2 separate regions of the Homo sapiens genome follow, and region 2 is linked to region 1. Evidence: fine-mapped expression QTL. A gene starts in region 1. The other region holds a variant in brackets. All regions are shown on one strand. Distances are between the middles of the regions. Region 1 holds the start of NEFM (neurofilament medium chain). Region 2 has its middle 8.8 kb from the start of MIR6841.

Region 1 (4,388 bases):
CATACATGATATATTGATATAATTTATACTACAGTCTAGCATAAAATATAATACATATAAATTATCTACATATATAAAAGAACTATATCTATATTCTATCATTCTATATCTATTCTCAGCCAGATGATGGCAATAGTAAGCTATATAACAGAGAAACAGAGAAATAGAACGTCCTGGTGTTTGTCCTTGACATTATACATTTGAAAAGCTGAAACCACTAGATGAAATATTAGAAACCAAAACTCTGTTCATGCTTCCAGCATTTGAAAACATTTTTCCATAAAAAGTTTAAGCATGTGCATTGAGATTAATCTGCACCTCCTTTGTGTAATTCAAAAACCTTTTGTTTCTACTAGTATTCATTCTTTTAAAGCTGCATAAAAAGAGATAAAACTACACTTGCAATTCTTTAGAATAATTTCTTTTTAAGTAAGCAAGATAACCAGGTGCTGAGTTGATGCCTGCACCCTGCCTGCTTTAACTTAAGTGGTGGAAGCTCTGCCGGAACAGCCTCTGCACTGCGGTTAGTGTTCCGGCCACGCACGTAGTAAGCATCGTACCTGTACGCAGCGATTTCTATATCCAGAGCCATCTTGACGTTGAGGAGGTCCTGGTATTCGCGCAAATGACGAGCCATTTCCCACTTTGTGCCCCGAAGCTCATTTTCCAGCTGCTGGATGGTGTCCTGAAACAGACACAGAGAATCTCCCCAGACTCATCCTTGCAAACAGCAACTTCCTTCGCAAACCACTTGCTACCCCTTCCCCCTGGCCTCCTCCCGTCTCCCTCCACTTCTGCAAACCTCGCTGACACCTGACTCCCAGCCCCCCGTCCCACCCCCTTTTTCTTTTAAATCTAAGCGATTCTCAAATGAACATACAAGATCAGTAAGACAATAGGACACTTCCTGGGCACATCACGCACGGAGACCAGTGGACTTAGAACACGTCTCAACAGGACACAAACATGCATGGGGAAACTCCATGGCTGACCTGGCCATTCCCATCTGAGCCCTTTGGGCTGAAGCCAATTTTGAGAGCTCTTCCGATCACTGCCGGAAAAGTAGAGAATACACGCGTTTCTGCATAAGCTATCCTAAAGTTGCTGATTTATCCACTACCGAATTCATCCCTCCTGCTTTAAACGTGCAAGCGTGCAAAATTAGAACTGGAAAAGATGCACGTTTCTGAAAAAGGTCAAGACCCTTAGCAGCTGGGGCAGGTGGGTGGGGGCGGAGTGTGGAGGATGAGATGGGCGAGGACGCTGATCCGCAAATACCCTAGGTCTGCGGCGCGCGTGCTCTAGCGAGCGGCCACCAGGGAGCGCGGCGGAGAGGGCGCCTGGGCACGAGCCCAAGTGTCGGGGGCGCGCGGCGCTGGCGCTGGCGCAGGCTGGCCGCGCAGCCGCGGTTCCTACCTGGTAGCTGCTGAGGTCGTGGTTGTGGCGCTCCTCGATGTCGCTGAGCTGCCGCTCCAGGGACTCCTTGGTGCCGCGCACCGACTCTAGCTCGATGCTCTTGGACTGCAGCTGGCGCCGGTACTCGGCGATCTCTTCCTTGGCGGAGCGGATGGCCTCCTTGTTCTGCTCGGCCGCCTCGGTGAGCTTGGCGTAGCGGCATTTGAACCACTCTTCGGCCTGGTGCATATTCTGGTCTGAGTGGCTTTCGAGCTGGGAGCGGATTTCCTTCAGCGCCGTCGAGATGTCTGTCTTCAGGTAGTCTTTGCGCTCCACCGTGATGTGCGATGCCTGGATCTGGGCCAGAAGGTCGGCCACCTCCTCCTCGTGGTTGCTCCGCAGGAAGGCCACCTCATCCTGCAGCGACTGCACCTTCTTGTCCAGCTCCACCTTGACCAGCGACGCCTCCTCGATGTCTTTGCGCAGCGCGCGGATGGCCGCCTCAGTGTCGTCGCGCAACCGCGCCTCCTCCTCAAAGCGCTCCTTGAGCCGGTGGATGTCTTCCTCCAGGTGGTCCGAGTCCAGCTGCACCTGAGCCTTCTCGTGGTTCACCATCTCCAGGGTGGCGCGCAGCTCGCGGATCTCCTGGTCGTACGCGTCGCCCAGCTGGGCGTGCGAGGCCTGCTTCTGCCGCAGCGCCTGGATCTCCGCCTCAATCTCCTTATTCTGCTGCTCCAGGTAGTGCACCTTCTCTATGTAGCCGGCAAAGCGGTCGTTCAGCCCCTGCAGCTGCTCCTTCTCGTTGGAGCGGGACAGCTTGTAGTCGCCGCCGGGTCCGGAGCCGCCGTTGAGCAGGGACGAGGACTGGCTGAAGTCAAGGCTGCTCTCGGCGGAGCTGAGCATGGCCGAGCTGTAAGCGAGGCGCGGGGCGAGCATGCTGCGCTTATAGGAGGAGGACACGGTGCTGGGCGAGCCGCGGGACCACGACTGCGAGCGGAAGCCACTGGACGGGGAGCCGCTGACGCGGCTGAAGCTCGAGCGGGTCTCGGTTACCCGCCGGTAGGCGGACGGGTTGCCCAGCGAGTCCAACGTGTAGCTCATCTTGGAGGCCTTGGGGCGTGTGGCTGTCACAGCGTTCTGCCGGCCTCGCCGCAGCCCATTTATAGCCGCGGCGCTGGTCCCGGGCCAGGGCCCCGCCCCGTGGAGGCGGCGGCCGAGGAGGCGGGGACTGCGGGCACCGGTCGGGGAGGAGGGGAGGGGGGCGGCTGAACGGTGATTCAGCGCCCGCTCCACGTGGGCCCAGGCCGCATGGGAACCTGGACTTTTCTGCCCTGGGCCCAGCCCCTCCCCCAGGTCCCCTTTCAGTCCCAGGCTACTTGTAGCCGGGCATTCGCCTTCTTTCCATTTCTCACCTCCCGATTGCGTTTCGCACCCTTGGTGCGAATATCGCCAGCGCCCTTTCTTTGTCACTGTCCCGCCGTTCAGGCAGCGCTTCCCCGACCCCGTGGTCCCCTTGTTCTTTAGCCTTCTACCCTCTTATCCTCAAGGCTTTCTCTTATTTTGCCCTTTCCCTGATACTTTTTTCTTTACCCATCTTCTGTGCTTAATTTCATCCCCTTCTTTTTTGGCCCCTCTTCTCCTTCCTACTCTGGCCTTTAGTCCAGTTCACCCTGCCCTTCTCTCAGCCCCTTCCTCGGAGATCCTTTTCTTCCAATCTTTCCTTCTCCCCGTCTCCTCCCTCCTTCCCCTTGCATTCCCTCTTTTCCCCTCCCCCACCCTCATCTTTTCTTGCCTCCCTCCCCTTCCCCCACCCCTTGTCTTAAAGCAGCTGGAGATGAGCGCCGAGGAGCTGGGTCTAGAAGACAAAACAAAACAAAAAAAAAGACTTTGCGGAACGGTCTGCCTGAAGGCTTCGGGAAGGGGACAAAGAGAACAGGCCGGGGTAGTTATTTGTATAAAAAGTGGGATATGGCGTTTTTAACGTTTGGGGGACGTCCGCAGCTTCCGCAGGGGCAGAAGGTAAGGCGCTTGTGCTCGCTATGGCGCCGGCAGCACCAAGGACAGCGCCCAGGTCGGCGAGTGGGAGGTGCAGCCACCCGGGGGGCTTGTCACCCAGCCTGGCCTGTCAGGTTGGCAGGGGGCAGGGGGTTCCCTTCCCCCTCTTCTCTCCGAGTAAATACAATTTAAACCTGCCTGTAGTGACTATCTTTGCAGGAGCGAAGCTGGAATCACAGGCTAAGACTTCCCTGCAATGCAGGGTTGGCACAATGGACAGATCGCAGATTTTGAAAACAACCAAAATTCATTAAAGTCAGTTAACAGAAATATATACTTGTAGCCCAGTTTGAGTTTTCTAACATATGGTGGTATAGGAAATGAAGAGATACAGGGCCTGAAATGTGAAGGTCAAATACTCCTTGGAAAGGAGAATTTGAAATCTGTTGGGATGAAAAGTCCAGGGAAATATAGTTTTTCTTAAGTTTGGACACAGACAATTGCCTTGTCATCTTTCGGTTCAGTATTCCCTATGTGTAACTGCAATGATTGAAAAGGCATCTGAATTAACTTTAAATTGATTTAAAAGTTGCGGAACAGAGTCACCACAACCTTGAATAAAATCAGATGTTTTCCCTTCATTTAAAATGTAATATATTTTTCGCTTTAGATTTTAATGATTGATTTGGAATAGATTTTCTATATCATTAAACATGTTTATGCAAACAAGAACTCTACACAGACTTCTTGCTGTCTGGTGTACTCCTGTTAAAATGTCCCTTTATTTTGGGTAGTGCTTTGGGGGTAATTCAGGTTAAAAAAGTTCAGAATACTACAAGATAAAGTGAAGAAGAGATTGCAGAACTAACAACAGCGCTGGGGCCACAGGTACAAGTGACTGAATGTGCAACGCTTGCTATGGGTGAGAAGAAACTACTGCTTATAAAAAGTAGGGACTCCAGACCGAAATAGCTTCTTTTCACAGCATGTTTCCTTAA
Region 2 (4,388 bases), 31 kb before region 1:
TAGTATGTATTAGTTATTTGTTGCTGCATAACAAATCATTCCAAAGCTAAGTGGCTTTGAACACCTCAATTACTCATTCTTTCTTAGTTTCTGCAGGTCAGTAATTTTGGAGTGGCCCCGTTGGGATTTTCTGGCTCTTGGCTGCTGATGGACTTGCAGTCAGAAGATGACTGACTGAGGGTACTATTAACTGAAGGCCTTGATTAGGGATGTAGGATGCCTTTCACAGAGACTTATCAACTTGGCTGTCAATTTCTTCTCCATGTGGGCCTCTCCAAGGAGCTGCTTGAGTATCCTTACAATATGGTAGCTGGACCTCCCCAGAGCAAGGCTTCCAAGAAACCAAGGCAGAAGTTGCAATGTCTCCTATGACCAAGGCTTGAAAGTCACACACCATCACTAACACTGTGTACTGTTGGTCACAGAGACTAGTCTGCCTGATTCAGTGTGGGAGAGATCTACACAAGGGCATATATCAAGGGCAAATAGCAAGAAGGGGAGATCATTAGAGGCTACCACAGATAGCTAGGCATGTGGATATTTCTTTTATGAAAAACAGGCATGCATTTCACAGATTCTGAAATAATTCCAGTTTTAAATATTCTTCTGCTCTAATTTCACCAGTATACTCATTCTTATCTGTTATGTGTGTCCCAATTTAAGTTTAAAAACATGTTCATAAAAATTCTAGATAGCATGGCAATAAATATTCAATGTATGTCTTCATGTTTACCCTTCTAGTGAAGTGTTTCTTTAATAATTCCCTCAGTGGGTTTGTGTATTCACGAGATATCATGTACATTCTAATAGCACCTGATGTGTAATCCCATATTTCTATTCTATAAAAGGTGATAGCTATATTTTAAGAGCTTTACTTCCTGCATTCATTCATTTTAAATGAAATGTATATTACTCTAGCTAATTGGAATAAGTATGGTGGCAGCTAATATGTGACAAGGTAAATTGTGACAGAAAAATAAAACTGTTTATTGTTTTGTTGGGAGATCAAATGCATCCCAGTTGACATCTTAAATTTATTTTTAGGGCCTGGCATGATGGCTCATGCCTGTAACTCCAGCACTTTGGGAGACTGAGGTAAGAAGGTTGCTTGAAGCCAAAAATTTGAGACCAGCCTGGGCAACATAGTGAGACCCTGTCTACAAAAAATATTTTTTTTAAAAAAACAATTAGTTGGGCATGGTGGCACATGTCTGTAGTCTTAGCTACTCAGGAAGCTTAAACAACTAATTTTTAAAAATACTTTACTTTTGCACATGATTTCAAATGGGAGATTTTTAATAAACAATAATTTATGTTAATTACAAGTAGTCTTAATATAAAATGATAAAACAAAAAACATGAGATTCTGCAGATGAGGTTCAGGCTTCTTATAGCTATTAAAGACACTTTCATTTGTGTAATGGTGGTCACTAATCCTTTTACTCTTAGGTAAATGTCTTTTCAATTTATAACCATCCCACATCCTTATATGTTCATGTGGAATATAGGCTGTTTCCTGACATGATCATTAGAAAAAAGACAAATAGCAACTAGCGGGATGCTTTGATGTAGCAAAATTAATGCTCCCTTTTGCTGTGTATCTACCCCACCAGCAAAGACAGAAACCCTATATTTAAAACTCTATCTATGTTTTACCTAATCAGCTCTAGCTGTGAGGCAGGAATGATCTGCTTGTTCTGATTTGTTAGTTTGTTTTGAATCATTTATTCACTGGAAAACTCAATCTTTTTAACACACACACACACACACAGAGACAGAGAGAGGCTAGCTTTCTTTCTTTCTCCTCCTCCCCATCCTAGATGCACACAAAGGAGAATATGTGTGAGCGAGAATCTCACCTGGAAGCCGCAAATCATTCAGAGTTTAAGGCAGAAAAATTGGTGTCAGACATGTGAAACTAAGGATTTTTTTTTTTTTTTTTTTTTTTTTTGAGACAGGGTCTGGCTCTGTCACCCAGGCTGGAGTGCAGTGGCGTGATCGTGGTTCACTGCAGCCTCAACCTCCTGACATCAAGCAATCCTTTGACCTCAGCCCACACCACCATGCCTGGCTAATTTTTGTATTTTTGTAGGGACAGGGGCCTCCGTATATTACCCAAGCTGGTCTGGAACGCCTGGGCTCATGTGATCCTCCTCCCTTGGCCTCCTATAGTGCTGGGATTATAGGTGTGAGCCACCTCTACTGCCCCAAGGGTGAAAGTAAAATGCAGCACCTTCCCCAATGGGTTTGTCAATTGGCCCCTATGGTCAGCAGGATCCCAGTGTGAACCCAGGACTCTGGTTATGGGACACTTAACCAGAGAGTGGCTTCCCCTTGAGTGTGTCTGTGGAAGTGACTTCTGAGTGTGAACCAAATCCCCAAAGGGCCACTGTGACTTAATAGGAGCACCTGGGACACAGCTTGTTCTCGATTTCCCCTCTGAACACTGACACCTGCCCTCAGGTCCTCCTACTCCCACCTGAGCAGTGAAAACTGGAAAAGACAAGTGTGACTTCTGAGAAGTCAGCTGAAGCCTGCAGATAGGAGTGAGTGGAAGTTGTTTTCAGCATTTACAGCACGGGTGCA[A/G]TTTTCCTGGGGTGGCACACAGCCCTGAAACAAGCGGTCCCTCCTCAGCCAAAGCAAGCAACCTGATGTGTTGGGGTGTGTGCACCGGTGAGTGTGTGTTGTTTAGACACCATGCCCTTAGCTTGTTTTTGTATAAGAGGGGCCAGACAGTCATCTTATTGTTCAGGGAGTAGAAGCCCAGGTGCTTTTAGAGCCCAGCGGCTCTCTCCAGCCGGCTTAGGAAACAACACTGTGCTCAAGTTTATGCATAATTTAAGCAAAATGAGTAGAAAAATACTTCCTTTCAGGCCGGGCGCGGCGGCTCAAGCCTGTAATCCCAGAACTTTGGGAGTCTGATGGGGCGGATCACCTGAGGTCAGGAGTTGGAGACCAGTCTGGCCAACATAGCGAAACCCCGTCTCTACTAAAAATACAAAAAAAAGCCAGGCATGGTGGCGGTACTCGGGAGGCTGAGGCAGGAGAATCGCTTGAACCTGGGAGGCGGAGCTTGCAGTGAGCCGAGATCGCACCATTGCACTCCACCCTGGGTGACAGAGTGAGACTCCATCTCAACAACAACACCCAAAAAACTTTCTTTCACCCAGTGGCAGCAGGTTTCCCGAGGTGATGAAAGCCTGTCTGTGGCTTTCCTGCCTTCCCAGGGCAGACCTGTAAGGGCAGGCTACCCTCCTCTGCCTACTGCTCCCCACCTCCCCCAAATCGGTGTGGAGAACTAGGAAGGGTCGTAGGACCTCAGCCCCTATTTCTTTCTTTTTCCTTTCCTTTTTTCTTTTCTTTTCTTCTTTTCCTTTCCTTTCCTTTTTTCCTTTTCTTTTCTTCTCTTTTTTCTTTTCGAGACGGAGTCTTGCTTTGTTGCCCAGGCTGGAGTCCAATGGCTCCATCTCAGCTCCCCGCAACCTCTGCCTCCCGGGTTCAAGCGATTCTCCTGCCTCAGCCTCCCAAGTAGCTGGGATTACAGGCGCCCGCCACCTTAGTAGAGCCGGGGTTTCACCATGTTGGTCAGGCTGGTTTCGAACTCCTGACCTCAGGTAATCCACTCGCCTCGGCCTCCCAAAGTGCTGGGATTACAGGCGTAAGCCACTGCGTCCGGCCCAGCCCCTATTTCTATCTTCCCTGAGCCTCGTGACTACCAGCTCTGGGGGTCTCTCTGGAGGGGCTGGGTTGTGCTCCTGGACAGGGCGGAGCGCATCCGAGCGTATTTAGGTTTACACTGAACATACGGATCATTCGAATATATATTTTTTAAAGTAACCTAAACACGCCTCCCTAAACCCGTGAGAATCTAATGAGCTGAGATAAAAGGCTTTGAAAAATCAAAATGGCCAGATACCACTTTTTCTGGTTTCACTGTCGCGATCACCGCTGTTGCCCGGAGCCGCCCCCTTGGGTTCCTGCACCTGCAGCTCTGCCCGGGCGCCACCCACGCTCGCATCGCCGCTGGTCACACCTGCTCTCTTTGTTTCTTTCCGCCGGCAGACTGGATGCACATGTGGTCGGGGGAGGAGGAGCTCTGGGCTGGGGAGGGACGACCAGGGCTGAGACAGGAGCTTAAGAAGCTTCTCCGCCGGGTGCGGTGCCTCACGCCTGTAATCCCAGCACTTTGGGAGGCCGAGGCGGGCGGATCATGAGGTCAGGAGATCGAGACCATCCTGGCTAACACAGTGAAACCCCGTCTCTACTAAAAATACAAAAAATTAGCCGGGCATGGTGGCGGGCGCCTGTAGTCCCAGCTACTAGGGAGGCTGAGGCGGGAGAATGGCGTGAACCTGGGAGGCGGAGCTTGCAGTGAGCCGAGATTGCGT

What was found. PIP is the estimated chance that this variant, and not a neighbour inherited with it, causes the effect. A credible set is the group of variants that fine-mapping cannot tell apart.
Region 2: its variant is the best candidate, but not a certain one, in a credible set for the expression of NEFM in whole blood (INTERVAL, PIP 0.53).

What each region holds. Positions count from the first base shown.
Region 1 is chr8:24,911,902-24,916,289 of GRCh38, reverse strand. It overlaps NEFM (neurofilament medium chain), which reads right to left and starts at 2,529. Exons shown (of 3, transcript NM_005382.2): 1 at 1,417-2,529; 2 at 561-685. The coding sequence starts at 2,496. RefSeq lists an enhancer at 2,112-2,885.
Region 2 is chr8:24,942,921-24,947,308 of GRCh38, reverse strand. No RefSeq gene overlaps it. Among named protein-coding and RNA genes, the nearest start is that of MIR6841, 8.8 kb to the left of the region's middle. The variant A/G (reference allele first, on the strand shown) is at 2,587.